7 linked regions of the Homo sapiens genome follow. The protein of the gene in region 6 purifies or fractionates together with the protein of the main gene of each other region. This does not show direct contact. Each region holds a gene or a part of one and is shown on either strand. Other genes may lie near its edges.

Region 1 (4,397 bases), on a different chromosome or scaffold from region 6:
TGTTTGTTTGTTTTGAGACAGGGGTCTCACTCTGTCACCCAGTCTGGAGTACAATGGTGTGATCTTGGCTCACTGCAACCTCCGCCTCCCAGGATCAAGTGGTCCCCCTACCTCAGCTTCCCAAGTAGCTGGGACCACAGACTGGTGCCATTATGCCTGGCTAATTTTTTGTATTTTTTGTAGAGATGGTGTTTCACTATGTTGCCTAGGCTGGTCTTGAACTCCTGACCTCAAGTTATCCTTCTCACCTCAGCCTTCCAAAGTGCTGGGATTACAGGCATTAGCCACCACACCTGGTCCACTGCTTAATTTCTTAGCTTAGTTGTATTTGGCCAAGGAAGACTCATGTGCTTTCTGCATTTTTTTTTAGGGAGCCAAGAACCATGGGGTAGTCATGCCAGATGCCAATAAGGAAAATACCCTGAACCAGCTGGTTGGGGCAGCATTTGGAGCTGCTGGTCAGCGCTGCATGGCTCTTTCAACAGCAGTCCTTGTGGGAGAAGCCAAGAAGTGGCTGCCAGAGCTGGTGGAGCATGCCAAAAACCTGAGAGTCAATGCAGGTAATCAATCACCTGACTTGCCCCCTTAGATTTTGCATCTGTGGCATTAAGCTCTTGGGTTCTGTCACTGGCCTTGGCCAGTGGGAACAATCATGTCTATTCTTGCCATTTCCTCTCTTTATACTGTACTTGTCATTTGGAGTCATCTTGTTAGCAGTCTTTTTTTTTAAAGCACAGGCTGTCTGTTACCCAAGCTGGAGTGCAGTGGCACCATCCTAGCTCATGGCAGCCTCAAACTGTTGGGCTCAAGTGATCCTCCTGCCTCAGCCTCCTGAGCAGCTTGGACCACAGGTGCGGGCCACCACCTGGCTAATTTTTTTATTTTTTGTAAATATGAAGTCTCACTTTGTTGCCCAGGCTGGTCTGGAACTCCTGGGCTCAAGCAGTCCTCCTGCCTTGGCCTCCTAAAGCTTTGGGATTACAGGCATGAGCCCTGGCAGCAGTCATAATTTATGTTAATGAGGACCTTAAATTCTTCTGTGTTGTTTTACAGGAGATCAGCCTGGAGCTGATCTTGGCCCTCTGATCACTCCCCAGGCCAAAGAGCGAGTCTGTAATCTGATTGATAGTGGAACAAAGGAGGGAGCTTCCATCCTTCTTGATGGACGAAAAATTAAAGTGAAAGGCTATGAAAATGGCAACTTTGTTGGACCAACCATCATCTCGAATGTCAAGGTGAACAACTTTCACTTCACAAATATGAGAGCTGAAGGCACCTTAAAGGCTATAGAATCTCATCCCTCTAATTTATTAATGAAAATACTTAATGACTAAGACCTTATCTCTTGCCAGGATTGATCAATTATTTTATCTGGAGTCTGAATGAGCCTCTCCTTCTAACTCCCAACCAAACTCTTTCCACTATACCAGCAGTCTGCAGACTTTCCATAAAGGGATAGATATTTCCAGCTTTGCAGGGATATAGTGTCTGTTGCAACTAAACTCTGACATTGTAGTGTGAGATCAGCTATAAACATTGTGTGGCTGTGTTCCAAAAAAAATGTTATTTATGGACACTGATATTTGAATTTCATATCATTTTATATATGATTAATTTTTTTTCAACCATTTAAAAATGCAAAAACCATTTTTAACTTGGGGCTGTACAAAAACAGGCAGGAAGCCACATTTGGCCCACAGGCTATAGTTTGCCAAACGCTATCTTATCTTATACTGGTTTGTTAATGTTTTCTCTCCCCTCTCCCTCTTGCTGCCTAGCTTATGGCTACTGCAGTGTCTCAATCAATATATCAACCACCCAATATTTATTGAAAGTGACAAAAATAATTGACTTGTCAATTTTTATTTATCAAAACTTTGAAAGTCTCTCAGCTAACATGACTTAAAAATTGAGGTTATGAGGCATTTTTTGAAATTCATATATCCTTACTATAATAGTGAATCATCAAGTGTTGAATGTAAGTGCAGTAGAAATTATGAAATCTCTTGCCACAGAACCATACAGAAAAATCCGTTTATCAGCAACAAACATTAATTGCATGGTGAAGGATGTTTTGAGTGTCTGCGACCTGATATCAAAATATAAACATACAGACATATTTGGGAGGCAAAGGAGTGAATAAGAATGGATTATTTATGTTACAGAAAACAGCATGGGGTTTCTGTAAAGAGAAAAATTATCCTGGTATATTTACTATAGATTGGATTTATAAAAAATAAATTTTCATGTAACTTTTTGATAACAATTGGATGAAACTAGTCGTTCAGGTATTAAAAAGGCAGCTGATGATGGGTCATGAACTAAAGATACAGTCCCTTAAAGGAAGTGTGGTTATTGTTGATAGGAATTCCAAGTTGTTTATATGATTGGTAACTTGGAAGACGGAATACACTTGAGAGAGGACTTTTTTTTTAAATAGGTGATTTGAAATGAAAAGAGATTAGTAATATGAAAGTTGTCCACGTAAATGATGTGTAGTAAGTGAAAGTACCAAATAAGCATAAAATACTCAGAATCCAAAAAGCTGACTTCTTTTCTGGATGCATCACTCCTGGCAGCCAAATATGACCTGTTACAAAGAGGAGATTTTTGGTCCAGTTCTTGTGGTTCTGGAGACAGAAACATTGGATGAAGCCATCCAGATTGTAAATAACAACCCATATGGAAATGGAACTGCCATCTTCACCACCAATGGAGCCACTGCTCGGAAATATGCCCACTTGGTGGATGTTGGACAGGTTCGTGAACAGAATTTTTAAGAGATTCTTATATCCATTTACTATTTCCTAAGAGGAAACAGTAAATAATGGTGAGTCATTGGTTTAAGATTGCCCCCATGACCTCCCACATTGCCCCATTTCTTCCTCAGGAATGAAAGTTCATGGGGTAGAGGATAGGGTAGAAGGTGGGTATTTAAAACTGGTCTCTGATGCCTTTGTGTTTCTAAATGGAGAGTTCCTTTGTCCTTAGGATATGACACGGATTTGTTCTGTTTTAGGTGGGAGTGAATGTCCCCATTCCAGTGCCTTTGCCAATGTTCTCATTCACCGGCTCTCGATCCTCCTTCAGGGGAGACACCAATTTCTATGGCAAACAGGTAACTTTTGAGTTAAATTTTTTGTCTTTTCCTTTAAGAAATTTTCTTAAAGATATTCAGGAGCAAGGATTCTGCAAGGAAGGGACTGCCAGCAGCATCTGTGAGGTCATAATCAGTGCTTCTCAGAAGGTTCCCTAAAAAAGATTTAAAAGTTAACAAAATTTTGCCAAAGCTGCTTCTTCCTGAATAATTCAAAGCAACAAAGTTTTGAGGAAAGAGCATGGGGAAGTCTAAGCCTTTGTATATGCCATTTCCTGAGTGTGTGACCCTCTTCCCCATCTCTCCCCTTTCATCTGACTAACTCCTAATCATCTGTCATGTCTCACTTTAAAAAATGAGCTCCTCCAGAAAATCTCCTCCAACTACCACCACCCCTCCCTCAGTGCTGGGTAGTGTGACCCCAGTGTGTTCCCATTGCACGTATTTTTTCTGTAATAGTTATTCATTTACAAAAAATGTTGTTGAGCACGTTCTTTGTAGCAGACATTATTATTACTATTATTATTATTATTTTTTTTTTTTTTGAGACACAGTCTCGCTCTGTTGCCCAGGCTGGAGTGCTGTGGCATGGTCTTAGCTCACTGCAACCTCCGCCTCCTGGGTTCAAGCACTTCTCCTGCCTCAGCCTCCCGAATAGCTGGGACTACAGGTGCCTGCCACCATGCCTGGATAATTTTTTGTTTTTTAGTAGAGACAGGGTTTCACCATGTTGGCCAGGCTGGTCTTGAACTCCTGACCTTGTGATCCACCCACCTCAGCCTCCCAAAGCACTGGGATTACAGGTGTGAGCCACTCTGCCCGGTCTGTAGCAGACATTATTTTAGGCACTATGAATACAGCACTGAACAAGAAAAGTAAAGCAGATCTGGAACCAAATTGCCTGTGTTCAAATCCCAGCTAAGCCAGTTATTAGCTGTCTGACTTTGGGGGATACCATTAATTTTTTTTTTTTTTTTGAGACAGAGTCTCACTCTGTCGCACAGGCTGGGGTGCGGTGGCACAATCTTGGCTCACTGCAACCTCCGCCTCCCAGGTTCAAGCAATTCTCCTGCCTCAGCCTCCCAAGTAGCTGGGATTACAGATGCCCACCACCACACTTGGCTAATTTTTGTATTTTTAGTGGAGATAGGGTTTCACCATTTTGGCCAGGCTGGTCTCGAATTCCTGACCTCAGGTGATCCGCCTGCCTCAGCCTCCTAAAGTGCTGGGATTACAGGCATGAGCCACCACAGCCAACCAGGATACCTTCTTTATGCCTTAAATTTATTCACGTATAAAA
Region 2 (4,397 bases), on a different chromosome or scaffold from region 6:
GTCTCAAACTCCTGACCGTGTGATCCACCTGCCTCAGCCTCCCAAAGTGCTGGGATTACAGGTGTGTGCCACCACGCCTGGCCCTAGACTGATCATTTTTAAGAAAAGAAAGAGGCTAGCGCTAGCTGGGTGCAGTGGCTCATGCCTGTAATCCCAGCACTTTAGGAGGCTGAGGCAGGTGGATCACTTGAGCCCAGGAGTTCAAGACCAACCTGGATAACATGGTGAAACCCTGTCTCTACTAAAACTATTAAAAATTAGCCGGGATGGTGGTACGTGCCTGTAGCTCCAGCTGCTTGGGAGGCTAAGATGGGAGGTGAAGGTTGCAGTGAGCTGAGATCGCACCACTGCACTCCAGCCTGGGTGACAGAAGGAGACCCTGTCTCAAAAAAAGAAAAAAAAAAAAAAAGGCTAATGAAAGAACAAAATAATAAAGACCCAAATTTCTACTCTTCCTTCCACAATGTAACTTTTCCTGGCTTCTTGTACTCTTGATTAAAATTCAGAAAAAGTTATGTCATGTTGAGTATCATCACTTTGACCTTGTTTTTAATGTTTAATTCTGTTTTCCAGGCTGGCAGTGATGGTGAAAGCATAGGAAACTGCCCCTTTTCCCAGAGGCTCTTCATGATTCTTTGGCTCAAAGGAGTTGTATTTAGTGTGACGACTGTTGACCTGAAAAGGTAAGACATGGTCGCAGTTTGCAATCAACTTAAGCTGAACTATCTTTTCAGTTTGATCCTATTTTCACCTTGATGGCACATATTCTCTAAAGGAAATATATTGTATTAAAGTTCTGCTGGTTTATGGACAAACAACTTGTATATAACTATTTTGGACAAGTCACGCTGTCAGTATACTGCGTGGCTACTCAGTCTTTTTTAGGAACTTTTGTATGTTTACCTTAAATTTCATGAGTAGCACTAGGAGCTAAGTGTTAGTGTGGATGCAGTGAAATCCTTGACTTCTTTTTTCCAGTGTAAACATGGAGTCATGAAGAGCTTTCTAAGCAGACATCATCTTGGCCCCAAATGTGTTAAGCATGTGATCTTTATAATCTGGATCTTCAAAGACAAGGATTTTTAGGAGGTTGAATACCGTTGTTGTCAATTTCATTTAATTTATTTTTCAGAGAATAACAGTAATTTTCTATAGCATTTTAGCTATAATGCAAGTATTTTAATCATATTTGTTTAAATGTATTGTAAAATAAGAGCAATTATCTGTGGCCCGGTGTCTGTTCTTGCTAAGTGAAGAGTTGTTTGTAGGTTTCTCTCCTGGATGACTTTATGGCTTATTTTCCATAGTGGAGAGGGCTGAGAAGAGCCGTGATGAGTAGAAAGCTCTGTTTTATTCAGGAATGTCTATTCACCTTTAGCAAACAGGTCTGAGGTGAAGAACATTCATACATCCCCTTCCCCAAAAGATTTAAATCAAGGGTTAAGAATAGTTGTATTGCTCTTCCTCTCCCTCTCCCCACGGTGTCCCTCTCTTTCCACGGTCTCCCTCTCTTTCCACGGTCTCCCTCTCATGCGGAGCCGAAGCTGGACTGTACTGCCGCCATCTCGGCTCACTGCAACCTCCCTGCCTGATTCTCCTGCCTCAGCCTGCCGAGTGCCTGCGATTGCAGGCACGCGCCGCCACGCCTGACTGGTTTTGGTGGAGACGGGGTTTCGCTGTGTTGGCCGGGCAGGTCTCCAGCCCCTAACCGCGAGTGATCCGCCAGCCTCGGCCTCCCGAGGTGCCGGGATTGCAGACGGAGTCTGGTTCACTCAGTGCTCAATGGTGCCCAGGCTGGAGTGCAGTGGCGTGATCTCGGCTCGCTGCAACCTCCACCTCCCAGCCGTCTGCCTTGGCCTCCCAAAGTGCCGAGATTGCAGCCTCTGCCCGGCCGCCACCCCATCTGGGAAGTGAGGAGTGTCTCTGCCTGGCCGCGCATCGTCTGGGATGTGAGGAGCCCCTCTGCCTGGCTGCCTAGTCTGGAAAGTGAGGAGCGTCTCCGCCTGGCCGCCATCCCATCTAGGAAGTGAGGAGCGGCGCCTCTTCCCGGCTGCCATCACATCTAGGAAGTGAGGAGCGTCTCTGCCCGGCCGCCCATCGTCTGAGATGTGGGGAGCGCCTCTGCCCCGCCTCCCCATCTGGGATGTGAGGAGCGCCTCTGCCCGGCCGCAACCCCGTCTGGGAGGTGAGGAGCGTCTCTGTCCGGCCGCCCCGTCTGAGAAGTGAGGAGACCCTCTGCCTGGCAACCACCCCGTCTGAGAAGTGAGGAAGCCCCTCCGCCCGGCAGCTGCCCCGTCTGAGAAGTGAGGAGCCTCTCCACCCGGCAGCCACCCCATCTGGGAAGTGAGGAGCGTCTCCGCCCGGCAGCCCCCCCATCTGGGAAGTGAGGAGCGTCTCCGCCCGGCCAGCCGCCCCGTCGGGGAGGGAGGTGGGGGGGTCAGCCCCCCGCCCGGCCAGCCGCCCCGTCGGGGAGGGAGGTGGGGGGGGTCAGCCCCCCCGCCCGGCCAGCCGCCCCGTCCGGGAGGGAGGTGGGGGGGTCAGCCCCCCGCCCGGCCAGCCGCCCCGTCCGGGAGGGAGGTGGGGGGGTCAGCCCCCTGCCCGGCCAGCTGCCCCGTCTGGGAGGTGAGGGGCGCCTCTGCCCGGCCGCCCCTACTGGGAAGTGAGGAGCCCCTCTGCCCGGCCAGCCGCCCCGTCCGGGAGGGAGGTGGGGGGGGTCAGCCCCCCGCCCGGCCAGCCACCCCGTCCGGGGGGGGGGGTCAGCCCCCCCACCTGGCCAGCCGCCCCGTCTGGGAGGTGAGGGGCGCCTCTGCCCGGCCGCCCCTACTGGGAAGTGAGGAGCCCCTCTGCCCGGCCAGCCGCCCCGTCCGGGAGGGAGGTGGGGGGGTCAGCCCCCTGCCCGGCCAGCTGCCCCGTCTGGGAGGTGAGGGGCGCCTCTGCCCGGCCGCCCCTACTGGGAAGTGAGGAGCCCCTCTGCCCGGCCAGCCGCCCCGTCCGGGAGGGAGGTGGGGGGGGTCAGCCCCCCGCCCGGCCAGCCACCCCGTCCGGGGGGGGGGGTCAGCCCCCCCACCTGGCCAGCCGCCCCGTCTGGGAGGTGAGGGGCGCCTCTGCCCGGCCGCCCCTACTGGGAAGTGAGGAGCCCCTCTGCCCGGCCAGCCGCCCCGTCCGGGAGGGAGGTGGGGGGGTCAGCCCCCCACCCGGCCAGCCGCCCCGTCCGGGAGGGAGGTGGGGGGGTCAGCCCCCAGCCTGGCCAGCTGCCCCGTCTGGGAGGGAGGTGGAGGGGTCAGCCCCCTGCCCGGCCAGCCGCCCCGTCCGGGAGGTGAGGGGCGCCTCTGCCCGGCCGCCCCTACTGGGAAGTGAGGAGCCCCTCTGCCTGGCCACCACCCCGTCTGGGAGGTGTGCCCAACAGTTCATTGAGAATGGGCCAGGATGACAATGGCGGCTTTGTGGAATAGAAAGGCGGGAAAGGTGGGGAGAAGATTGAGAAATCGGATGGTTGCCGTGTCTGTGTAGAAAGAAGTAGACATGGGAGACTTTTCATTTTGTTCTGCACTAAGAAAAATTCTTCTGCCTTGGGATCTTGTTGGTCTGTGACCTTACCCCCAACCCTGTGCTCTCTGAAACGTGTGCTGTGTCCACTCAGGGTTAAATGGATTAAGGGTGGTGCAAGATGTGCTTTGCTAAACAGATGCTTGAAGGCAGCATGCTCGTTAAGAGTCATCACCACTCCCTAATCTCAAGTAATCAGGGACAAACACTGCGGAAGGCCGCAGGGTCCTCTGCCTAGGAAAACCAGAGACCTTTGTTCACTTGTTTATCTGCTGACCTTCCCTCCACTATTGTCCCATGACCCTGCCAAATCCCCCTCTGTGAGAAACACCCAAGAATTATCAATAAAAAAATAAATTAAAAAAAAAAAAAAGAATAGTTGTATTAATGGGAAAAACTAGGGTTTGGCAGTGGATTCCTCTTGATGCAAGTGTCACAACATGATTTGCTATTATACTGATTTTTAAAACTATTAGTCTGTTCTCACATTGCTATAAAGAACTACCTGAGACTGGGTAATTCATAAAGAAAAGAGGTTTAATTGACTGGCAGTTCTGCAGGTTGTACAGGAAACTTGTCTGGGGAGGCCTCAGGAGACTTACAAGTATGATAGAAGTCAAAGGGGAAGCAGACATGTCTTTCATGGCCGGAGAAGGAAGAAGAGAGAAGGGGGAGGTGTTACATATTTTTAAACAACCAGATCTTGTGAGAACTCACTCTCTGTCACAGGAACAGCAAGGGAAGTCTGCCCTTGTGATCCAGTCACCTCCCACAAGGCCCCTCTTCCACCATTGAAAATTACAATTTGATATGAGATTTGGGCAAGGACAGAAATTTAAACCATATTATAT
Region 3 (4,397 bases), on a different chromosome or scaffold from region 6:
CCTTCTATGTATATAAAGGATGTGGTTTTATGGAGTGGTCTCTAAGAAGGCTTAGCCCATGGTCTTATCCCTCCCCTGCTTAGAAATTCTTCATAACTCTGATTGCAGGATAAAGGCCAAACACCTTGGCATGGGAATCCATTGTTCCTTACTATGTAACCCTAGCTGGTCGTTCCAACTTTATATTCTGCCATAATTCCCCATCCCAGCTCCCACTTTTAGCAACCTAACAGACTCAAGTGACTTTTACTGTGTCAGAAATTCTGTCTGGAATACCATCCCTCTTCCCCACTATTTAAACTCATAATTCTATTCCAGCAGAAATGTCTCACCTCTTCTGCGAATCTTTGACTTCTTTAAGGAAATTTAGTTGGTCTTTTTTCATCCTGCACATTTACTATATTGTATGTGTCCCTCCAGCTCGTTAGTACTCTACAATACCTAGAAGAGCCTATAAAAAAGTATAAAGCACAAAATAAATAGTTGTTGAAAGAGTGAATGCATGATTATTCAAAAAGAACCTAAACAAAGCAAAGGCTACCATCATTTAATTGTCACAAATCATTTTTTATTTTTCTTTTTATCTTTTACTTTAATTCTTTACTAATTATTTTTTCCTCCTTTTTCAAGGTCTTCAAATATTGAGTTAGGTAGGACTATTTGATTTCTTTTACCTGAAATAACTGAATTAGGAGACCAGAGAGAGGATAGTACATCACTTGGGCACATCGAGGCTCTGGGTACATGTGTAGTATGTGTGGTATCAGTGTCATAAAGGGCTCTCTGGAATATGTGGCTTGTGGTTACAATGTTGCATGCTTATTACCTTGTACCTCCCACCTGAGCCCCTCAGGCTAGAATGTGAGTCCCAAATCACACATTTTAGTGTGTGATGTAGTGAAGAGGGAGAATGGGTCCTGTCAGGCCATCATTTTTCTCAGTGGTAAAATTGGGAGCAATATCTATTGTATTAGGGTGTGTGTCTGTGTGTTTCTCTCTCTATGAGAGAGATTTTTATTAAGGAATTGGCTCATGCAATTGTGGAGGCTTAGTAAGTCCAAAATCTTCAGGGTAGGTTGGAGGCTGGAAACCCAGGGAAGAGTTGCAGTTTGGATGCCCAGGCATTCTGCTGGCAGAATTTCTTCTTGCTTAGGGGAAGTCAGTCTTTTTTTTTTTTTTTTTTTTTTTTGAGTTGGAGTCTCGCTCTGTTGCCCAGGCTGGGGTGCAGTGGTGAGATCTCGGCTCACTGCAACATCTGCCTCCTGGGTTCAAGTGATTCCCCTGCCTTAGCCTCCCGAGTAGCTAGGATTACAGGTGCCCGCCACCACGCCTGGCTAATTTTTGCAGTTTTTAAAATACAGACAGGGTTTTACCATGTTGGCCAGGCTGGTCTTGAATTCCTGACCTCAAGTGATCCACCCACCTTGGCCTCCCAAAGTGAGGGGAAGTCAAACTTTGTTCTATTAAGGCCTTAAACTGATTAGATAAGGCCCACCCAAATTATGGAGGGTAAAGTCCACTGATTTAAAGTCCGCTGATATAAATGTTAATCTCATCCAAAAAATACCTTCACAAAAACATCTAGAATGATATTTGACTAAATAGCCGGGCACCATGGCCTATAAAGTTGGCATATAAAATTAATCATCACATCCACCAAGGTTGTTGTCAGAGTTCAGTGTCGTAACAAATGAAAGCCACATGGATGGTGCATAAAACATGGTAGGAGTTTAAACAACTTGATGGAACAAGTGCTAGTTCCTTCACAACTCTGTCCTGAAAATACACTCTCATCCAAATGCATGACAATAGTGGTAATGCCTCTTCTGAAAACTTAGTACCCAGCTATTCCTATTTAACTGCTGATCATTGTTTCTGTTACAAGTCTGTGTGTTGGCCCAGCATTGAGCTCATGGTCACTGACTTCTGCAGCTCCTTCCTCATTTGCTGTGAGGGGATCACATCAGTGGGCTAAGCTATTTAAATTTATGTACATCCTTTATAGTTCCACTTTCAATTGCTGTTCTAGGTTCCCCTTTCCCACCTTTGTCACAGTGGCCCTGATGTCTAGTAAAATGTTATGTCTAGCTATGTTAGGCACCTTGTAGGGCATGTTGATAAAGATCTTTCTCCTCCTCCTTTAAATTTTTCTTCCCCTTTCTCCTCTTCTTATCTGTTCATCTATTGATGGACTTTCCCTTAGGCCTGGAGTGTCCTGTCAGAAATATTGTGTGAATTCAGAACTGATTTATGTGTTTGGTGACACAGAATCATTTTTAGAAGGGGCCTTAGAGATCATGTAGCCTTCCCCTTAGATATGATGGATTGACCTTGATCTAAATTATAGAGGGTCAGAAACTTGATAGAGCTTGAACAGGAGGGTGGTTAAAAGCACAGCTTTTAGTGCTGGGTGTGGTGGCTCACACCTGTAATCCTAGCATTTTGAGAGGCTAGGAGGATCACTTGAGGGCAGGAGCTAGAGACCAGGTTGGGCAACATAGTGAGACCCTGTCTCTACAAAAAACAAAAAACAACTACAACAAAACCTAAAGCATACCATTTAGAGGCAAACAGGTTTGAGAGCAAGTTCTGTTTCTGCCACTACCTGAGTAAGTTACTCAGAGGCAGCCCCTATTTTCATAATCAGCAAAATGGAGATAATTATATTACCTATACCATAAGTTTGTTGTAAAAAGAGGTGGTATGTGTAAAGTGCATATTTAGCACAGTGCATAACAGTTAGTAAACAATAAATGATAAACATTATTTTTATCTTGCAGTTTCCTAATGTACATGGCTTTAATTAACCCCTTCACTTTTTTAAAATCAATAGGATTAAAATAATCAATACTTTAATAGATTTGTGGCCTAGGAATTAACCTTTTTTCTTGCTTAAAATCATTCTTTTCACACAAGATTCTGTACATAAAAAGAAGCATATGAAACTATTTCTATTTTTCTTTCTATGCTATTTTAAGTGTTGATAAAGTGTTGGGGGGAAATATGGTAATGAATTTACCCTTTTAGGTTTTTGGAAGTACCTTCTTCTCTTGATAACAATAGTAAATCTAACACTGTCTTTCTGATAGCTGAGTTTTAAATTTCTTACTAGCTAATGCTAAAATCTAATTTCAATAAAAATTAACTTTAGGTTTTTCACTGACTTGTTTATATTCCTCTGTCAGCATACTGCAGGAACTTTGTGCTTTAGAGAATTTAGACTTTTAAAACATTTTCAAAGTTTGGGTTCTAGGATCAGCCCTGCCACTAAATCACATCATACTTTTGGGCAAGTTGCCTAACCCTCTAGATCTCATTGTACTAATTTGTAAGATAAATGGATTGGATCTGCTGATCTCTGATTTACCTATAATTTTGTTCACTGAGTGCCTCCTGTTTATAGGGCACTGCGTTAGGAACAGTGGGAATGTGGGTACAAGTTTTGTTTTTTGCCATAACATTAATTGCCTTTGATGAATTGGACCTAAACAACTTTACTATCTTGACTTTGAATAAGACACAGACCCATAACATATAAAGTGTTTTTAAATTAAAAAGTAATCACCTCTTCAATTGGTACAATATTTATAATATTGCATAGTTGATTTATATTATAATATAATAAAACATTGTGTTTATGATTTTAAAGTTTGCTTGGTTGTGGGTCTATTGCAGAAGAAAGGAGAATCATAGGTAAGGAGAATACCTTGATGGTAGATCTTATTTGTCTTCATTTCTAGTGCCTTGGATGGTACTTCTTTTTATTTTTTTATATGGTTCTGACAGGATATGGTACTTCTTAATAAAGATATTATGAATTGAAAAAATTGACCATAAATTAAAATGAATAAGGAGTAAGAGATGAAAGTAAAATTACATATGTAGTGTAAATGTGTCTAATGCATTATTAATGATAGTAATTTACTACCATTTATTGAAAGCTTCAAATACCGTAAATATTATCCTAAGTACTTAATAGACATTCACTTAATTAATCCCTATTACTGTTCTATGAGGTAGATGCTATTATTCCATTTTGTAGGCAAGAGAACTATCCTTTTTGTTTGTTTATTTTTAGACAGGATCTTGCTCTGTCACTCAGGCTGGAGTGAAGCCATGTGATCATAGCTCACTAGAGCCTTGAACCTATGGGCTCAAGTGATCCTCCCACCTCAGCATCCCGGGTAGCTGGGACTACAGGTGTACACCACAATGCCTGGCTAATTTTTTAATCTTTTTGTAGAGATGGGATCTCGTTATGTTGCCCAGGCTGGTCTTGAACTCTTGTCCTCAAGCAATTCTCTTACCTTGGTCTCCCAAAGTGCTAGGATTACAGGCAGGAGCCATCAAACTCGGCGAGCAAGAGAACTATCATATAGAGAGGTTAAATTATTATA
Region 4 (3,802 bases), on a different chromosome or scaffold from region 6:
ACCTACCTGCCTCCAGGGATCTCTGAAGAAAAAAAGTAACCCATTGATCAAATCAGAGGAGAGGAAGCAGGAGGTCTCCTAGAGCCCATTGAGGAAGAGGAACTTTCTCAGTAGGACACTTTATAAGCCTGAGAAAGCTTTGAAAAGGCGGAATGAGTTGATTCATTTCCACCTCAAAAGGAACCTTTCCAGGTCCCCCTGGAAATTGTGCCCTGGAGATGTTTAACAAGGAGAACTGGTGAGGAAAGAGTCCTTTTTTACTGTAGGGAAAAGCCCCAAACTGGCCTCCTGGGGGATGAGGGCTGAAATGATCCCGAAGGCCTTTTAATTAGTGTGAAATCCTGCTGTACTCAGAAATCCTTCCCCGAATTTACAGCACAGGCAGGATGACCTAAGAGGCAGTTTACTTCCCTGAGACCCACAGTTGGGCTGTTCTGGAAACACATCTGTGAATCATAGCCAATTGCCACAGAGAAAACAGAACCAAGCCTCCGGTGAGGCCACTCCACCCCAGAGAAGTCTGCAGAATTCCAAGGACTCGGATTGGATGTTCAGAATTCAGCAACTGGAAAGTCCTTAAAAACAAACAGGCCAAACCAAATCAATATTGCTGTTTCTAGATGTCCCTTCTGTGGTTGAGCTAGTTTTACAGAGATAAATATATTAAGACAAGGAGGTGGGGGTGTTATATGATCAATGATAGCCATTTGAAAGAGAGGGAGGAGTACAGAAGGAAGGCACTTCTGGGTACTTAATTCAGAAATTTCTTTATATTTCAGCACTGGATTATCATATAATGCAAGTGACTATGGACTAAGAGTTAGTTATGGTGTCTTATGACTAGATTTATTATGGTATATTAAAGTAACAATAATATTAATATTACCTTCCTTTTTTTTTTTGTTTCAAAAGAGATCTTTCTCCAGATGCTTCAGCCTGTCTGGCCTTCTTATCATATGTGCAGCACATCATGTCTCAGCAACAGTGTGGTGAGGTCCTTAGGTGTCCCAAGAACAACTCAGGGAGCACGGGAGGGTCTGCAGTTGGGACCCCACAACTATACAGCTATAGGGTAGGAGGCTTCCTTTTCATTGGTCCTGAATGAATACAAATCGCTCAGAAAGCATTTTGGTGGCACAGAAAGGGGATGTATTTGTGTTGAGATCTTATTTTATTTTGTATTTATTTATCTTCTTTGACTTGCACAGCACTATTGGGGGTGGGGGAAGCAGGGTAGTGGGAGACGAAGGCAGAAGCAAGAGTCAAACTCAGAATGACTGAGTTGAATTCACTGTCTAGTCAGCAATGCCTGCTTCTGAGTTTGGCCCAGAGAGAAGGTATTGAGTAAGATTTTAATAACTGTAAAAAGTAAGCTGGATAAGTAAAATCATGATGGATCCAAAGCACAGTTTCTTCATCTCCTGATAAAGAAAGTCAAATGCTTGATAAATTCAGAGTCACAGATGTGAGCATAGCTATATTCTTTTAAACGAGAGGTAGAGTGACCTAGCACTAAGCAAATGAGCTGAAATGTCGGAAACAGAGTCCATCAGCTTATTTGGCCACACGATCCCAAACTAGTTTTATCTTGGGAAATGGCCCTGTCCTCAGCATTCCCTTCTTGTGCTGGTGGGGCCAGTGAAGTCTTGATCTTATCAGAAAAAGGCCACACCAAGTGCGAGTTTTCCCAGGCTGACTTTCCAGGCCCTTATCAAATGAAACAACAGAAGCTCTTCACAGTTCTGTGCCCCATGGCCACTCCACAGACAGACAATACCAAGCATCTTAGAACTGTCATAAGATAGGTCATGCCTGAAATAGATCTTGACCATATGAGAGTCCCAGAAATCAGCAAGGCCTGGACAAATAGAACTAAGAGAGAGGCAGAGGCAGGAAGCTGCGGGTCTATCTTGTAAAGAGTTTAGCATCACTGTGAGAGTGTGTGTCTAAAATTAAATTAAACTAGAAGCAGCAGGTGAGTATTTGGTAAGTACTTCTGTGACTCGCCTCAATTCCCACTGGCCAGGGGCCATCTCAACTGCACGGTGAATCAAGATGCTGGTGTCATCCTCCTTGGAAAAAGGAAATGTTAACTCATGGTTAAAACTAAGTACAATGATTCCCAAGGGATCACTTTCTTATTTTTTTAAATGACATTAAGGAGAATCTTAAGAAAGCATCAGAGAAAGACATGTGCATGTGAAGCACCCTGATTCTGATGTTAGGAAAACTTAAGCGAACAGGACCTGCTGCACACAGCCCCATTGTCTTCTATCCATTTCTCTTTATCATTCAAATCAAGCAACATGTGCCCTCCTCATCAACACACATTCTTCCCCTTTGTCAGTATGCATCTCCCAGCTTAGTGTCAGGATACTTTCGATTCATAATTATGTATGATCCAAAGTGTGCATAATTTCATTTAACGTTAAAGAAATAGATCCAATTCCTTTCTTGCAACCAAAAATAAATAAAATACGTTGCCTCAATATAAGGTTTGGGCTATTCTGTGTTTCTATAGAAGCAATCTGTTTTTGGTAAAATGTACTTTTAAGGATCCAGTCATCTGAAGTATTTTATGTAGAGTTAGAGATTTCACAATATTGACTATACATATATTTAAAATATAAATTATCCAGCTGATGTTTGAATTTGTCTTACTTTCCTGGCCACCTCGTTGTCCTATTTTATAAGCTGGGGAGTTAACTAGCTTAACAAAAGATGCTTAGCTTTTGTAAAAGAACAAGTGTTTCATTTTACAAAGACACTCCAAATGATAGTTACTTGATTTTCTCGAGACCTTTAACTATGGTGATGAATAACAGGACTTGCTTTCAAGCCTTAATAAATGTAAAATGCCTTTTAATGAAGATACAGCTGAGTGTTTTCCTCATGAATCTGAACCAATTACCAATTTGTGTTCCAGTCTTGATTGGTATTGACTGATTCAAATAAAGTTGGTTTATTTTCAAATATTACAAAAGTGGTCATCTAACTTCTTATTTGAGGTGGGGATTTCCTGTGCTGTTTTAGATGACAAGTATGAAGTACCTTTTTTTTTTCCACATAAAGGTTAATTTATTTTCCCATTATAAAGGAAAATGTTCATTCTTTTTAAAAATCAAAGCATGCCTGGATAATTTTTGTATTTTAGTAGAGATGGGGGTGTCACCATGTTGGCCAGGCTGGCCTCGAACTCCTGACCTCAAGTGATTCGACTGTAATCCCAGCTACTTTGGAGGCTGAGGCAGGAGAATTGCTTGAACCTGGGAGGTGGAGGCTGCAGTGAGCTGAGATTGCACCACTGCACTCCAGCCTGAGTGACACCGACAGAGCGAGACTCCCTCTCAAACAAAGCAAAACAAAACAAAAAAATCAAAAGCAAATGGAAAAGAGGAAGAAGAAAACGAAAAGCACAAAGTTTGTGAACCAGCCATCCTAAAACCAATTTTTTTTTTTTTGCAAGACTAAATAAACATTCTTTCATAATACCTGGGCTAGGTAAAAAATTATACTGATGCTCTTTCAGTGTCTCATATTTCCCATCTGCATTGTCATCCATGGAGGTAGATCAACAGTGACAGTCCAGGTATGATTTAAAGAATTCCTTAAAATATCATTCTTCTTGTGCCCAGAGCTCTCTGTTGGCTCTCAGTGGCTTGCGTTCCTAGGCTGAAATCCCTACTCTCAACACCACATCACTGACTCTGGGTTCAGGTTCCCAGAGTCCTTAGTAAGCTTTACCTGAAGCCAATGTGACGTCTGATGAAGACTTCTATGAGCATTCACATTGCTAAAGGGT
Region 5 (4,397 bases), on a different chromosome or scaffold from region 6:
GGAAGTGGCTTGTCAGCGTTGCCTCTGGTTTCCCTCTCCTGCTTGAGAAGGAAACTGCCAGGCCTATGGCCTGAAAAGTAAGTTGGTGTGATGTAGATGCTGCCAGAGCACCCCCTTATAACCAAGAGTAAGAAAGATGGGGACTTGGCTGGATGCAGTGGCTCATGCCTGTAATCCTAGCACTTAGGGAGGCTGAGGTAGGTGGATCACCTGAGGTCGGGAGTTCGAGACCAGCCTGGCCAACATGGTGAAACTCTGTCTCTACTAAAATACAAAAATTAGCCAGGTGTGGTGGCAGACACCTGTAATCCCAGCTACTCAGGAGGCTGAGGCAGGAGAATCACTTAAACCTGGGAGGCAGAGGTTGCAGTGAGCTGAGATCACGCCATTGCACTCCAGCCTGGGTGACAAGAGTGAAACTTGGTCTCAAAAAAAAAAAAAAAAAAAAAAAAGGAAAGATGGGAACTTGCAGCCTTGACCTCCCAGGCTGAAGTGACCTCCCAACTTAGTCCCCCAAGTAACTTGGACTAGAGGCATGCCCGGCTAATTTTTTTTTTTTTTTTTTTTTTTGAGATGGAGTCTTGCTGTGTCGCCCAGGCTGGAGTGCAGTGCCGTGATCTTGGCTCACTGCAAGCTCTGCGTCTCAGGTTCACGCCATTCTCCTGCCTCAGCCTCCCGAGTAGCTGGGACTATAGGCGCCTGTCACCATGCCTGGCTGATTTTTTTTGTATTTTTAGTAGAGATGGGGTTTCACCATGTTAGCCAGGATGGTCTCGATCTCCTGACCTCCTGATCTGCCCACCTCGGCCTCCCAAAGTGCCGGGGTTACAGGCGTGAGCCACCGCGCCCGGCCTGGCTAATTTTTTTTAAAAATTTTTTGTAGAGACAGGGTCTCACTGTGTTACCCAGGCTGGTCTCAAACTCATGGGCTGAAGCAATCCTCCTGCCTTGGCCTCCCGAAGTGTTGGGATTACAAGCATGAGCCACTGAGCTGGCCTCAAGACCCTATCTCTAAAAAAATAAATACAGAGATCCTTGATCAAATACTGGTTTAGAGTGCCTCAGAGGTGCAAGAGTTCAGCTAAAATGTCAGCTCCTGCTGAGAAGGTCAGAGGCCTGCTAAGCCATTCAGAACCCTGGGGAGTGTCTACATCCTCATCAGACACGTTCTTATTTGAGACTGGCTGTAAGCTGCTCCCATTATTTTTCATGCTACGAAGGCCTCTAATCTTAGAAATAGCTCTAATTTTTTTTTTCTCTTACCTAGAAAACGCCAGGTCTTCAAGGGTGTCTGCCACCACCATGCCTGACCCATTTGGCAGCAGCCTCGTGTGTGGTGGTCTGGTGTGGACGGTGGAAGCGTGATTCTGCTGAGTGTCAGGTTAGTGTGGGTGCTCTGCAGGTGGGCTGAGACTTGGCCCAGGCTTGCTGTCCTGTGCATGTCTTGCTAGAAGGAACCTTATTTCTCTTCCCCTGATGCCTCTCAGAGAAAGGCGTGGCCTTCCTTTTCGCAGTTTAATGCCTTTACCTTTCCTTTGGGTCCTGCTACCCCTTACTCCATCAGTGGTCGCCCCATCTCCTGTTGAGCAGTAGATTTTTAAGCCACTCATCATAGTGAACCCTGTGGGCCCTTTATTGAAACTGTCTGTTTGGTTCCTGTGCCACTAGACTCTGGCTCCGGCCTTCCCCACAGCTGTGGCTCCTGAACCTCTGCCGCCCCTAGATTCCGCCCCTTTCTTGGCAACAGCTGTCATCTTTCCAAGGGCGACTTCTCAGTCCTCTCATTTATCTAACACGTGAATGTGGCGCTTCCTGTGTGTCAGGAAGGCACTTTGGAGGCGCAGTTCTGCGATGAGGAGCGCTACGACTCAAAGCAGGGCAGGGGAGGGTGTCGGGGTGGAGGGGAGCTCTTCTGGTGGGCTGGCAAGGGGTACTCTGAGCAGGGGAGCAAGTGGAGGCCGAGTGGTGAGGAGTGAGCCAGGTGACGGTGTGTGGAGCATTCCTGACCTTTGTCCCCAGCCCTGCCCTCTCCTGTCCTGCAGCCTGCATCTTTGCTGAGTTCTCAGGGCCTTCCAGCTAGAAGTTCTGCCATCTGTTAAATGCGTATGTTTCCTCTCCCGCTGCCTGTCTGCCTCCCTCTCGGAGTGCACCTACAGAGCACTAGCCCTCCATTCCCTGCCAGCCACACCCAGGGTCTCCCTCTCTGACTCCCACACCTGCCTCACTGCCAGCCCAGCTAAGGTTCTCTTCAAATGTCTGTTTTCTGTCTGCCTCTGCCATTCCCAGTGTGACCACTCGTGCTCAGCCGTATCTCAGCAGGAGGACAGGTGCCGGAGCAGCTCGTGCAGCTAAGCAGCCAACTGCAGAAACGTCAGGTGGGTGGTGCATTCGCAGGCATGCTGAAGAAGCAGTTCCAGGCATGGGCCGCCGGCAGAGAGGCTGGCTGCAGCACCCCCCACCACCATGCACATCGTCCTTTGCTTCTTCCTAGAGTTAGCGGCTTTGGCAGGCCATGCCTTGTTTGTGTTCACAGCCTGCCTGTCAGGAGCGAAGACAGAACGTCTGACTTTTGGATCCGTAACAGGGGTGGGGGCTCCCCAGAAGAGAAGAGGCTTTGGGTCCTGGCCAGTGTCCACTACTCAGTCAAACATTCAGAAACTTACATGATTCTTCATCGTCCCAAGCAAGTCTGACTTGGGCCCTTTATTGAAACTCTGTTTCCTCTCCCGCTGCCTGTCTGCCTCCCTCTCGGAGTGCACCTACTGAGCACCAGCCCTCCATTCCCTGCCAGCCACACCCAGAAAGCAATGGGGCTTTCTGGGAAGGCAGAAATATTCTGTGACCTGGGCTATTCAGAGGGGTGGCGTGAGTCGTGTGTGCCTAGCAAACACTCAGGACATGGCCGGTGAGACAGAAGGGCTGAGCTTTTGTCCTAGCTAATATATTAATTAATTAATTCATTATTTATTTTGAGACGGAGTCTCTCTGTCGCCCAGGCTGGACTGCAGTTGCGCAGTCTTGGCTCACTGCAACCTTCGCCTCCTAGGTTCAAGCAATTCTCCCGCCTCAGCCTCTTGAGTAGCTGGGACTACAGGTGTGCGCCACCATGCCTGGCTAATTTTTTTTGTACTTGTAGTAGAAATGGGGTTTTGCCATGTTGGCCAGGCTGGTCTTGAACTCCTGACCTCAAGTGATCTGCCCACCTCGGCCTCCCAAAGTGCTGGGATTACAGGCATGAACAACCGCACTCAGCCTATTTATTTAATTTTTTCGAGACGAAGTCTCACTCACTCTGTCACCCAGGCTGGAATGTAGTAGTACGATCTCAGCTCACTGCAACCTCCACCTCCCAGGTTCGAGCGATTCTCCTGCCTAGGCCTCCCAAGTAGTTGGGACTACAAGCGTGCGCCACCACTCCAGGCTACTTTTTTTTTTTTTTTTTTGAGATGGAGTCTCGCCCTGTCATAAAGGCTGGAGTGCAGTGACCTAGTCTTGGCTCACTGCAACCTCCGCCTCCCAGGTTCAAGTGATTCTCCTCCCTCAGCCTCCCAAGTAGCTGGGTTTATAGGTGACCGCCAACACGCCCAGCTAAGGTTTTTGTTTTATTTTGTTTTGTTTTTGTTGTTTTTGGTTTTTTTTGAGACTGAGTCTCACTTTGTTGCCCAGGCTCGAGTGCCGTGGTGCGATCTCGGCTCACTGCAACCTTGCCTCCCAGGTTCAAGTGATTCTCGTGCCTCAGCCTCCTGAGTAGCTGGGACTACCAGCGCACACCACCACACCTGGCTAATCTTTGTATTCTTAGTAGAGGCAGGGTTTCACTGCGTCGGCCAGGCTGGTCTCAAACTCCTGACCTCAAGTGATCCACCCGCCTCAGCCTCCCAAAGTGTTGGGATTACAGGCTCATGGGATTACAGGCATGAGCCACTGTGCCGGCCTCTCCTAGCTAATTTAAATTTTAAATTTAAGTTGTCACACATAGCTGTGGCCACCGTATGGACAATGTGGGTCTGGCTGCATGTGTCAGGCTGTGTCACATGTCAGGCTGTTGGCTGTGGCTGTCCCCACTGTGCACCTTTGCTTTTGCGGTCTCGTTTCCAGAACTTCTCTGCCAGTGAGAACCCCATGACACACCCCCATTTTAAAGCCTTCTCTGGCTTTCCTGCATTCGTTAGGAAGGCATACTGCCTCATGCTGCCGCGGCCATCCCTCTGCAATGAGTGCTTGGTGTCCCTCAGACTTTGTGCCTGCAGCTGCCCCTGGCCTTCACATGGTTCCGCCGGCATCGCAGCTGTACTGTGGCCAAGCTTGGGGCTTTCCTTGACTCCATGTCCCCACCAGGTGTCCCATTGCTGGCTCTGCCACGGAAACTCTCCAAAGGGCTCTCTCTACCCACTCCT
Region 6 (4,397 bases):
GCACTTTGAGAGGCCAACATGGGAGTTCAAGACAATCCTGGGCAACATAGCAAGACCCCGTTTCTACAAAAAATAAGAAATAAAAAAACTAGCTGGGTATGGTGGCATACGCCTATCCTTCCAGCTTGGGAGGCTGAGGTGGGAGGATCACTTGAGCCACAGAGTTCAAGTTTACAGTGAACTATGATTGTGCCACTGCCCTCTAGCCTGGGCAACATGGAAAAACCTAGTCTCTAAAAATAGAAATAACAGGAAGAGGGTACTTTTAGGTTGTTAATAGGCCTCATTGCCTTTTCCATCTCCTCCATCCTCTGCTGAACTGTATTGTTTTGGTTCTTGCTCTTTGCCTGTCTTCTCTTTTACTTCTAGTTAGTTGTTTCTTAGTTGATCAAAGGCTCAATCTTTGTTGCTCTTTTAGGTTGTTTTCTGTGTTAGGAATCATGAGCCTGAATGCAGAGGCTGAGAAGGAAGCATTGAAAGATGCTGGCTAGATGGCAGCATGGGGGACTGGTGAACTGGAGAGAGTGCTCTAGAGAGGAGGCAGCTTCTCAGCCCCAGCCATTGTTGCCCTTATAGAATATAGACCCAGGGTTTCCATTATTACTGATTTTTCTGGAAAACCTGGAAAAAGTGCAGTTTTAGGTGAAATGTCTTGATTTTTAAATGTTAGTAGTTTTTTTCTGTTTTTCTTCTTTTTAATCTCTACCATTCCATCCAGATAATGTTAGTAGTTTTAAAACTGCTCGGCTGGGCATGGTGACTCAAGTCTGTAATGCCAGCACTTTGGGTGGCTGAGGCTGGAGGATCACAGCCCATGAATTTGAGACCAGCCTGGGCAACATAGACTGTCTCTCTACAAAAAATTTAAAAATCAGCCAGGTGTGGTGGTGTGCGCCTGTAGTCTTAGCTGTTCAGGAGGCTTGAGTCCAGGAGATTGAGGCTGCATTTGAGCCCATGTATCATACCACTGCACTCCAGCCTGGGTGACAGAGTGAGACCCTGTCTCTAAAAATAAATAAATAAATAGAATACAAAAATAAAATGCTGCTGACCAATACCACAGTTACAGTTGGCATCTTTCTGGCAATTAGTTTTCAACTGCAGCCTTCTCATTTATTCCTTACAGAAAGCTGAGAGATTCCAGTGTCTCAGTGATTGTACATGCATGTGGCATAAGATATACCTTTAGTTCTAACTTTTCTTTCAACCTCTAGTCTCTTTCTTCTGTTGACTATTTCTGCTTATGTCAGTACAAATTCAAATTCAAAAAATTGAATTTGTATTTCGTCCTGCAAACCAGCTAGCTTCTTTCCCTGTCTTTTCTATATTCTCCTGGTTGTCCTGGCTTGAAATCTTAAAGTCATTTTTGACATTCCTTTCCATTGAGTTTTTACTTTATAAAAACTCTTAATAATATCACTCCCTTCTGTTTCCACATCTGCTGTTCTTCATCACCCCATGCCTAAATTATTGGCCTCCTGGACTTGATTTTCTGCTCTGTTCACACCTTGCCTACTTCTGGGATAATAATTTTCACTAAGCACTACTTTGTGATGTCTTCTTCCTGCTTAAGCAGTTTCATGTAGTTGTTTAATTTCGTGAGGCCATGTTTGTTTTATTGGATAATTGCAAAAAGTTCCTGAGTGATAAAGTTCTCATCTAAGACAGTTGTTTATTTAAACTTCACGCATCATAACCACCTGGAGGGTTTGTTAAACACAGATTTCTGGGCCCCACAGTTTCTTGTTCAGTAGGTCTGGGGTGGGGCAGAGAATTTCAGTTTCTAGTCAGTTTCCAGGGGATGTTGATGGTACTTGTCCAAGAACCATACTTTGAGAATAACTGTTCTAAAAAGCCAAGTTGACATCAGTTGAAGGAAATAAGCCTGATAAAGTTAATTAAGAAATTAGAAGTAGCAGGCCGGGCACAGTGGCTCATGCCTGTAATTTCAGCACTTTGGGAGGCTGAGGCGGGCGGATCAAGAAAGAAGTCAGGAGATCATGACCATGCTGGCTAACATGGTGAAACCCCGTTTCTACTAAAAATACAAAAAATTAGCCGGGCATGGTGGCAGGCACCTGTAGTCCCAGCTACTCAGGAGACTGAGGCAGGAGAATGGCGTGAACCCGGAAGGCAGAGCCTGCAGTGAGCCGAGATTGCACCACTGCACTCCAGCCTGGGCGACAGAGAGAGACTCAGGCTCAAAAAAAAAAAGGAGCGGAGAGGTGCATGCCCTCTTCCTCTCCACCAGATGGCAGTTTTGGAACCAATAGAAAAGAAAGATCATAAATTCAGAATTACCTGGGGACACTGAATTCTCAATTACATTTTGAGGTATAAAAGCTAATATCAAATTTTAAGTGACAGCTGAATTTGAATTAGAACGAATGGGCTGGGTGCGGTGGCTCACACCTGTCATCCCAGCACTTTGGGAGGCCCAGGTGGGCGGATCACCTGAGGTTGGGAGTTCAAGACTAGCCTGGCCAACATGGAGAAACCTCGTCTCTACTAAAAATACAAAAATAAGCCGGGTGTGGTGACGCATGCCTGCAATCCCAGCTACTCGGGAGGCTGAGGCAGGAGAATTGCTGGAACCTGGGAGGCAGAGGTTGCAGTGAGCTGAGATCGTGCCACTGCGCTGCAGCCTGGGTGACACAGCAAGACTCTGTCTCAAAACCAACCAACCAACCAAATGGAAGCAATGTGATTATATAGTATTTGACAAGGAATTTGGTTGTGTGTGTATATATATATACACATATATACGTATATATATACATATATATACACATATATACGTATATATATACGTATATATACACATATATATGTATATATACATATATACATATATATACACATATATATGTATATATACATATATATATATTTTTTTTGTAGTAACTGGTCCACAGATTTTTGTGACCTATAAATATTGTGTACAGTGGCTTTGTTTGATAGGTTTACATTAACTTTCTTTGAGTTAAATAAAATTCTGTCTTATATATAAAACTGGGACTTGGAGTTAGTCCTGAGTTCTCTTTGTTTACTTGTTAAAACACTGCAGTTAGTACTTACACTGTTACATAATAGTTGCAAATCTGGCAACACCCTCTTGAACCTTGAACCTACATTTGGGTACTGGCCTCATTAAGGAATCCAAAGTCATTCTGGATTTTTATGCTTAAAATCTCCAGAAAGATAAAATTGAGTCAAGTTGAAAACATTTTAGACGTGGTGTTTTAGGGTAGTGTAGTTCACACTTTAAAAGTAATTATGAAAACCTTATTTAGAAAGTATCCCTAAATAAGATATGATCTGTCACTTCAGTTTCATAATTATAAAGTGTTAGTGTTGATTTTTAATGACAGCTTCGTTCTTTGAAATCATTTAGGGGAGCTTCAAACAAAGTATCTGTGCCTGTGCCCCACCTCCAGAGTTTGATTTAATTGGTCTTGGGTGTGACCTGGGCTTTGGAATTTTTAGCAGTCTCCAGGTGATTCCTTTTTTTTTTTTTTTTTTTTTGTGAGACAGAGTCTCTTGTCACCCAGGCTGGAGTGCAGTGGCACAATCTCGGCTCACTGCAACCTCTGTGTTAGAAATACCAAAATTGTTAGATAAGTGGTGTTGTGAAGAAAAGTCAGCACGGAGGCAAAAGATTTATCAGCAAGGCCATTTTTACTTTCTGCAGAAAGGGTCCCCAATTGCAGATGGAACAATGGCGAGAGCACACTTGACAAAGGAAAAGCAGACATATTTATCCCTTACGCATTTGGGTTGTCCTTAATGCTGTGTCCTGCATCCATTGGCTGGAGTGGGACCTCACACTCTTAAACTGATACCCAATATGCTAATAGCCTAAATAGGTAAGTGTAGGGAAGAACAAAGAAGTTGCTTATGAAAGGTTTAAGGAAGCAATAACATTTTTAAATAAGGGGAATAGGCTGTGAGCTCGAACATGCCCGTGAGCATGTCCAATAGTTACGTAGGATAGGGCTTAACAAAGAGTTACTAGCACAAAGCAAGGAGGCATGAAGAAAGTTAGTCTTTAAAAGAAATTATTATTTCTAACAGTTATGATTTATTCTTTAACAGGAAGAAAAACTTTGAAGAGGAAACTTTTTACTTTCTACACTCTGCCTCCCAGGTTTAAGCTATTCTCCTGCCTCAGCCTCCTGAGTAGCTGGGATTACAGGCGCCCACCACCATGCCTGGCTAATTTTTGTACTTTTAGTGGAAACGGGGTTTCGCCTTGTTGGCCAGGCTGGTCTGAAACTCCTGACCTCAGGTGATCCGCCTGCCTTGGCCTCCCAAAGTGCTGGGATTACAGGCATGAGTCACCATGCCCAGCCGAGTCTCCAGGTGATTCTAATGTACAGACCAGTCTTGGAATTACT
Region 7 (4,397 bases), on a different chromosome or scaffold from region 6:
GCCGAGATTGCGCCATTGCACTCCAGCCTGGGCGACAGAGCGAGACTCCATCTCAAAACAACAACAACAAAAAGAGATGTTGCACAATTCTGTGAATACACTAAAAGCCGTTAAATTGTACACTTTCAATGGGTGAATTGTGTGGTATGCGAATTATACCTTAATAAAGCTGTTATCAAAAAAAAACAGACTTACAGACATAAAAATCAAATGTAATTTTTTGTTAGGCATGACAATAGTAATGTAGTTACTTAAGAGAATATTATCCTTTTTTTTTTTTTTTTTTTAAGATGGAGTTTTGCTCTTGTTGCCCAGGCTGGAGTGCAATGGTGGGATCTCGGTTCACTGCAACCTCCGCCTCCTGGGTTTGAGCGATTCTCCTGCCTCAGCCTCCTGAGTAACTGGGATTACAGGCATGTGCCACCATGCCTGGCTAATTTTTGTATTTTTAGTAGAGATGGGGGGGTGTTTCACTATGTTGCCCAGGCTGGTCTCGAACTCCTGACCTCAAGTGATCCACCCACCTCAGCCTCCCAAAGTGTTGAGATTACAGGCGTGAGCCACCATGCCCAGCTGAGTTGTGCAATCTCTTAAATCTGTTTTAATCCAGAACAGTTGTGTCTTCCCCTATTGTTTCTTATTCACTCGTTGAGAGGCTGGATCATTTGTTCTAAATAGTGTCCCACTTTCTGGATTTGTTCTATTGCTTTCTCATGGTGGTTTGTTTGTTTGTTTTTTGATCTTGTTTCTCTATCCCTAGTAATTTCTCTAAACTGAAGTTAGATCTAAAGCCTTGTATTAGATTTAGGTTGAGCATATTTGGTGAGAGTACTACATAGATGATGTTGTATATCTCGTATTTCATATTGCATCGTATCAGGAGGTACAGGTTGTCCCACTCACAGTGATGCTAAGATTAGTGTGTGGGTTCAAGCAGTTACAGCCTAATCTCTCCTTTGTGAAGTTCAGTTTTTCCTCTTCTGATCAGCAACAATCTACAGGGGTGTACTTTGTCATCCTGCAAATAGCTGAGTTTCCCATCAGTCTTTTTCCAGTGCTTTCAATGTCCACTGCTGATCATTGCTTTAATTAGTATCATTAGGCAGTTTAGAGTAATTCTCAAATTTTGTCATTCCTTCTATGTTTGTTAGCTGGAATTCTGTAAAGAAGAGCGTTCCCTTAACAACTAGGGCGATTGGGTTTGAAATGGAGTTAGGATCAATGCTTCATTCTTGTCTTTTATTTACATGTTTTCAGAATAAGGAGTTGGTTCACTAGCTAGTGATGACATGCTTTTCCCAGTTTTTTAGCTTTTTAGAAAAGTATCATGTTTTTAAATTTCTTTTTTTTTTTCTGTGTGTGTGTGTTTTTGAGATGGAGTCTCGCTCAGTCACCCACACTGGACTGCAGTGGCGCAATCTCGGCTCACTGCAGCCTCTGTCTCCTGGGTTGAAGAGATTCTCCTGCCTCTGCCTCCCAAGTAGCTGGGACTACAGGCATGCCCCATTATGCTTGGCTAATTTGTTTTGTATTTATAGTAGAGACGGGGTTTCACCATGTTGGCCAGGCTGGCCTCGATCTCCTGACCTCAAGTGATCTGCCCACCTAGGGATTCCAAAGTGCTGAGATAACAGGCGTGAGTCATTTCGCCCAGCCCGTTTTTTTTTTGTTTTTTTATTTTTTTTGAGATGAAGTTTTGCTCTTCTCTCCAGGTTGGAGTGCATTGTCATGTGTCATGAGCATGGCTCACTGCAGCCTGGGCCTCCTGTGCTCAAGCAATCCTTCCGCCTCAGCCTCCTGAGTAGCTGGGACCACAGGCACATACCACCATGCCGAGCTAATTTTTTTTCTTTCTTTCTTTTTGAGATGGAGTTTTACTCTTGTTGCCCCGGCTGGGGTGCAGTGGCGCAATCTCGGCTCACTGCAACCTCCACCTCCTGGTTCAAGTGATTCTCTGGCCTCAGCCTCCTGAGTAGCTGCCCAGCTAATTTTTAAATTTTTTGTAGAGATGGGGTTTTGCCATGTTGGCCAAACTGATCTCAAAATCCTGGGCTCAAGTGATCCTCTCACCTCGGCCTCCCAAAGTGCTAGGATTACAGGTGTGAGCCACTGTCCTGCCAGAAAAGCATCATTATGAATTCATGGTTGTAATATATTACATGTATTTCAATAAATTGCAGCCATTGTTTCTCTTGATGCTCCAAGTGTGCCTTCTTTGGGCGGTGGGAGTTCCTCTAAGCTGGCTCCTTTCCACCTGTCTGTTTGATAGCTTCCTGCTGTCTGACACAAGATGTCTTGGGCTCATCTTACGTATTTCCTGCCCCAGGCCTGGAGTCAGCCATTTCTCCAAGTAGTCCTGGGGTTCCTTTTAGTGGGAACTGGTATTTAGACATCAAAATCTGGGCACTAGAACTGTACATTGTTACTAGTTTGTTATTGTTTCCAGGCCTTTTTAGTGGACAGAGCTAGGATATATTTTAAACAAACAAAAAACCTCATGAGAGCTGGGTGTGGTGGCTCACGCCTGTAATCCCAGCACTTTGGGAGGCCGAGGTGGGCAGATCACTTGAGCCCAGGAGTTTGAGACCAGCCTGGCCAACATGGCGAATCCCCATCTCTACTAAAAGTACAAAAAAATTAGCCAGGTATGGTAGCATGTGTCTGTAGTCCCAGACGATGTGGGAGGCTGAGGTGGGAGGATTGCTTTAACCCGGGAAGCAGAGGTTGCAGTGAGCCAAGGTCGCACCACTGCACGCCAGCCTGGGCGACAGGGCAAGACCCTACCTCAAAAAAAGAGCCTCATGAGTTTATATGGTCATTTTCAAGTCATTTAACCATATAGACTTCAACTTACTTTACGTCATCTTTTTTCTCTGAAATTGAATTCTTGGTTTCTAACAACAGTTACACCCAAACTGAGAAAAACTAATTGTGGGGGTAGAGCTGGGGTGGGAGGGATTGCTCTTTGCACAGGACAGAGTCCAGTGGCCTGTGGGAAATCTCATTTGTATTAGAAACTTGATTTAGGAGTCTGCAGTGAAAAATCTTTGCTGCTGCGTGGAAAGCTGACTTGGAAAGCCAAATTAAGATAGAAAAATATGTTGGTCCCTTAGTGATCTGAGGGAAGAATAACACCCATCTACTCTGGCCCTTCCTGCCAGCCCCAGCTGACCTGCTGTGGCCAGTGACTGGCCTGGGGCTTGTATTCAAGCACTGAGGCCACTGCTGCAAGTTTCACTCCCAGCTGATGCATGTCACTTTCCCAAGCTGTTGTTTCAATTCTTTTGTTTTTTGTTTTCAAGACAGAGGTTGGCTCTTGTCACCCAGGCTGGAGTGCAGTGGTGCTATCTCGGCTCACTGCAACCTCTACCTCCTGGGTTCAAGTGATTCTCCTGCCTCAGCCTCCTGAGTAGCTGGGATTACAGGCACCTACCACCACACCCGGCTGACTTTTGTATTTTTAGTAGAGACGGGGTTTCACCATGTTGACCAGGCTGGTCTCGAACTCCTGACCTTAGGTGATCCACCTGCCTTGGCCTCCCGAAGTGCTGGGATTACGAGCGTGAACCACTGCCCCCGGCCTGTTTTAATTCTTTTGTTTCCATTGTTGTTTCATCAAATCTTTTGATTCTACCACAGTGAAATATTATCCCTTTTCCCTTATTTTTTATTTCAAAAAATTTGATGCTTACAGAAAAGTAGATAGAATAATGCAACAAACGTATGCCTTTCACGTAAATTGTATTACATTTGCGTAATTCTCTTACCCTCTCTCTACAAATACACACATTTACATATTTTTTCCCATGAATCATTGGAAAGTAAGTTTGAGACTGCTTCACCCATTCAGGAGTTCAGCATGTATTTCCTAAGAACCAGGTATTTCTCCATAACCTCAATGCCTTTATTATATCTGAGAAATTCAACAGTGATACAGTTATTTAATATGTGATCCGTATTCAGATTTCACCAGTTGTCCCTAAAATGTCCTTTATAGCTATCTTCCTGATTCAGGACCCAATCCATCAAGGATTGTATATTGCATTTGGTTATCCTGTTTCTTTAGAATAGTCTCTCTGCCATTTGCTGTCTTTCAAAAATTGATATTTTTAAAGAGTTCAAGCCAGTTTTCTTTTTCTTTTTTTTTTTTTTTTCTTTTTTTGAGACAGAGTTTCGCTCTTGTTGCCCAGGCTGGAGTGCACTGGCACGATCTCGGCTCACCGCAACCTCCACCTCCTGGGTTCAAGCAATTCTCCTGCCTCAGCCTCCCGAGTAGCTGGGATTACAGGCATGTGCCACCACGCCCGGCTAATTTTGTATTTTTAGTAGAAACGAGGTTTCTCCTTGTTGGTCAGGCTGGTCTCAAACTCCCAACTTCAGGTGATCCCCACCCGGCT

Evidence for each region.
Region 1: the proteins of HIBCH (region 6) and ALDH6A1 fractionate together in Homo sapiens (co-fractionation; one large-scale study listed by BioGRID). This does not show direct contact.
Region 2: the proteins of HIBCH (region 6) and CLIC4 fractionate together in Homo sapiens (co-fractionation; one large-scale study listed by BioGRID). This does not show direct contact.
Region 3: the proteins of HIBCH (region 6) and PRCP fractionate together in Homo sapiens (co-fractionation; one large-scale study listed by BioGRID). This does not show direct contact.
Region 4: the proteins of HIBCH (region 6) and CLIC5 fractionate together in Homo sapiens (co-fractionation; one large-scale study listed by BioGRID). This does not show direct contact.
Region 5: the proteins of HIBCH (region 6) and FLCN purify together in Homo sapiens (affinity purification with mass spectrometry; one large-scale study listed by BioGRID and IntAct). This does not show direct contact.
Region 7: the proteins of HIBCH (region 6) and ACOT9 fractionate together in Homo sapiens (co-fractionation; one large-scale study listed by BioGRID). This does not show direct contact.

The regions. Positions count from the first base shown.
Region 1 is NC_000014.9:74,063,543-74,067,939, reverse strand, and holds part of ALDH6A1 (methylmalonate-semialdehyde/malonate-semialdehyde dehydrogenase [acylating], mitochondrial isoform 1 precursor), read left to right. Parts: intron 1-370; coding exon 371-560; intron 561-1,053; coding exon 1,054-1,235; intron 1,236-1,847; exon of another isoform or gene 1,848-2,579; coding exon 2,580-2,759; exon of another isoform or gene 2,760-3,019; coding exon 3,020-3,118; exon of another isoform or gene 3,119-3,151; coding exon of another isoform or gene 3,152-3,252; intron 3,253-4,397. UniProt on the Homo sapiens protein: Malonate and methylmalonate semialdehyde dehydrogenase involved in the catabolism of valine, thymine, and compounds catabolized by way of beta-alanine, including uracil and cytidine.
Region 2 is NC_000001.11:24,797,169-24,801,565, forward strand, and holds part of CLIC4 (chloride intracellular channel protein 4), read left to right. Parts: intron 1-573; coding exon 574-683; intron 684-4,397. UniProt on the Homo sapiens protein: In the soluble state, catalyzes glutaredoxin-like thiol disulfide exchange reactions with reduced glutathione as electron donor. Can insert into membranes and form voltage-dependent multi-ion conductive channels.
Region 3 is NC_000011.10:82,893,471-82,897,867, reverse strand, and holds part of PRCP (lysosomal Pro-X carboxypeptidase isoform 1 preproprotein), read left to right. Parts: intron 1-4,397. UniProt on the Homo sapiens protein: Cleaves C-terminal amino acids linked to proline in peptides such as angiotensin II, III and des-Arg9-bradykinin. This cleavage occurs at acidic pH, but enzymatic activity is retained with some substrates at neutral pH.
Region 4 is NC_000006.12:45,897,632-45,901,433, reverse strand, and holds the end of CLIC5 (chloride intracellular channel protein 5), read left to right. Parts: 3' UTR 1-2,978; downstream 2,979-3,802. UniProt on the Homo sapiens protein: In the soluble state, catalyzes glutaredoxin-like thiol disulfide exchange reactions with reduced glutathione as electron donor. Can insert into membranes and form non-selective ion channels almost equally permeable to Na(+), K(+) and Cl(-).
Region 5 is NC_000017.11:17,229,772-17,234,168, reverse strand, and holds part of FLCN (folliculin), read left to right. Parts: intron 1-1,267; 5' UTR 1,268-1,381; intron 1,382-2,286; 5' UTR 2,287-2,375; intron 2,376-4,338; exon of another isoform or gene 4,339-4,397. UniProt on the Homo sapiens protein: Multi-functional protein, involved in both the cellular response to amino acid availability and in the regulation of glycolysis.
Region 6 is NC_000002.12:190,312,772-190,317,168, reverse strand, and holds part of HIBCH (3-hydroxyisobutyryl-CoA hydrolase, mitochondrial isoform 1 precursor), read left to right. Parts: intron 1-4,397. UniProt on the Homo sapiens protein: Hydrolyzes 3-hydroxyisobutyryl-CoA (HIBYL-CoA), a saline catabolite. Has high activity toward isobutyryl-CoA. Could be an isobutyryl-CoA dehydrogenase that functions in valine catabolism. Also hydrolyzes 3-hydroxypropanoyl-CoA.
Region 7 is NC_000023.11:23,708,296-23,712,692, reverse strand, and holds part of ACOT9 (acyl-coenzyme A thioesterase 9, mitochondrial isoform a precursor), read left to right. Parts: intron 1-4,397. UniProt on the Homo sapiens protein: Mitochondrial acyl-CoA thioesterase. Catalyzes the hydrolysis of acyl-CoAs into free fatty acids and coenzyme A (CoA), regulating their respective intracellular levels. Regulates both mitochondrial lipid and amino acid metabolism.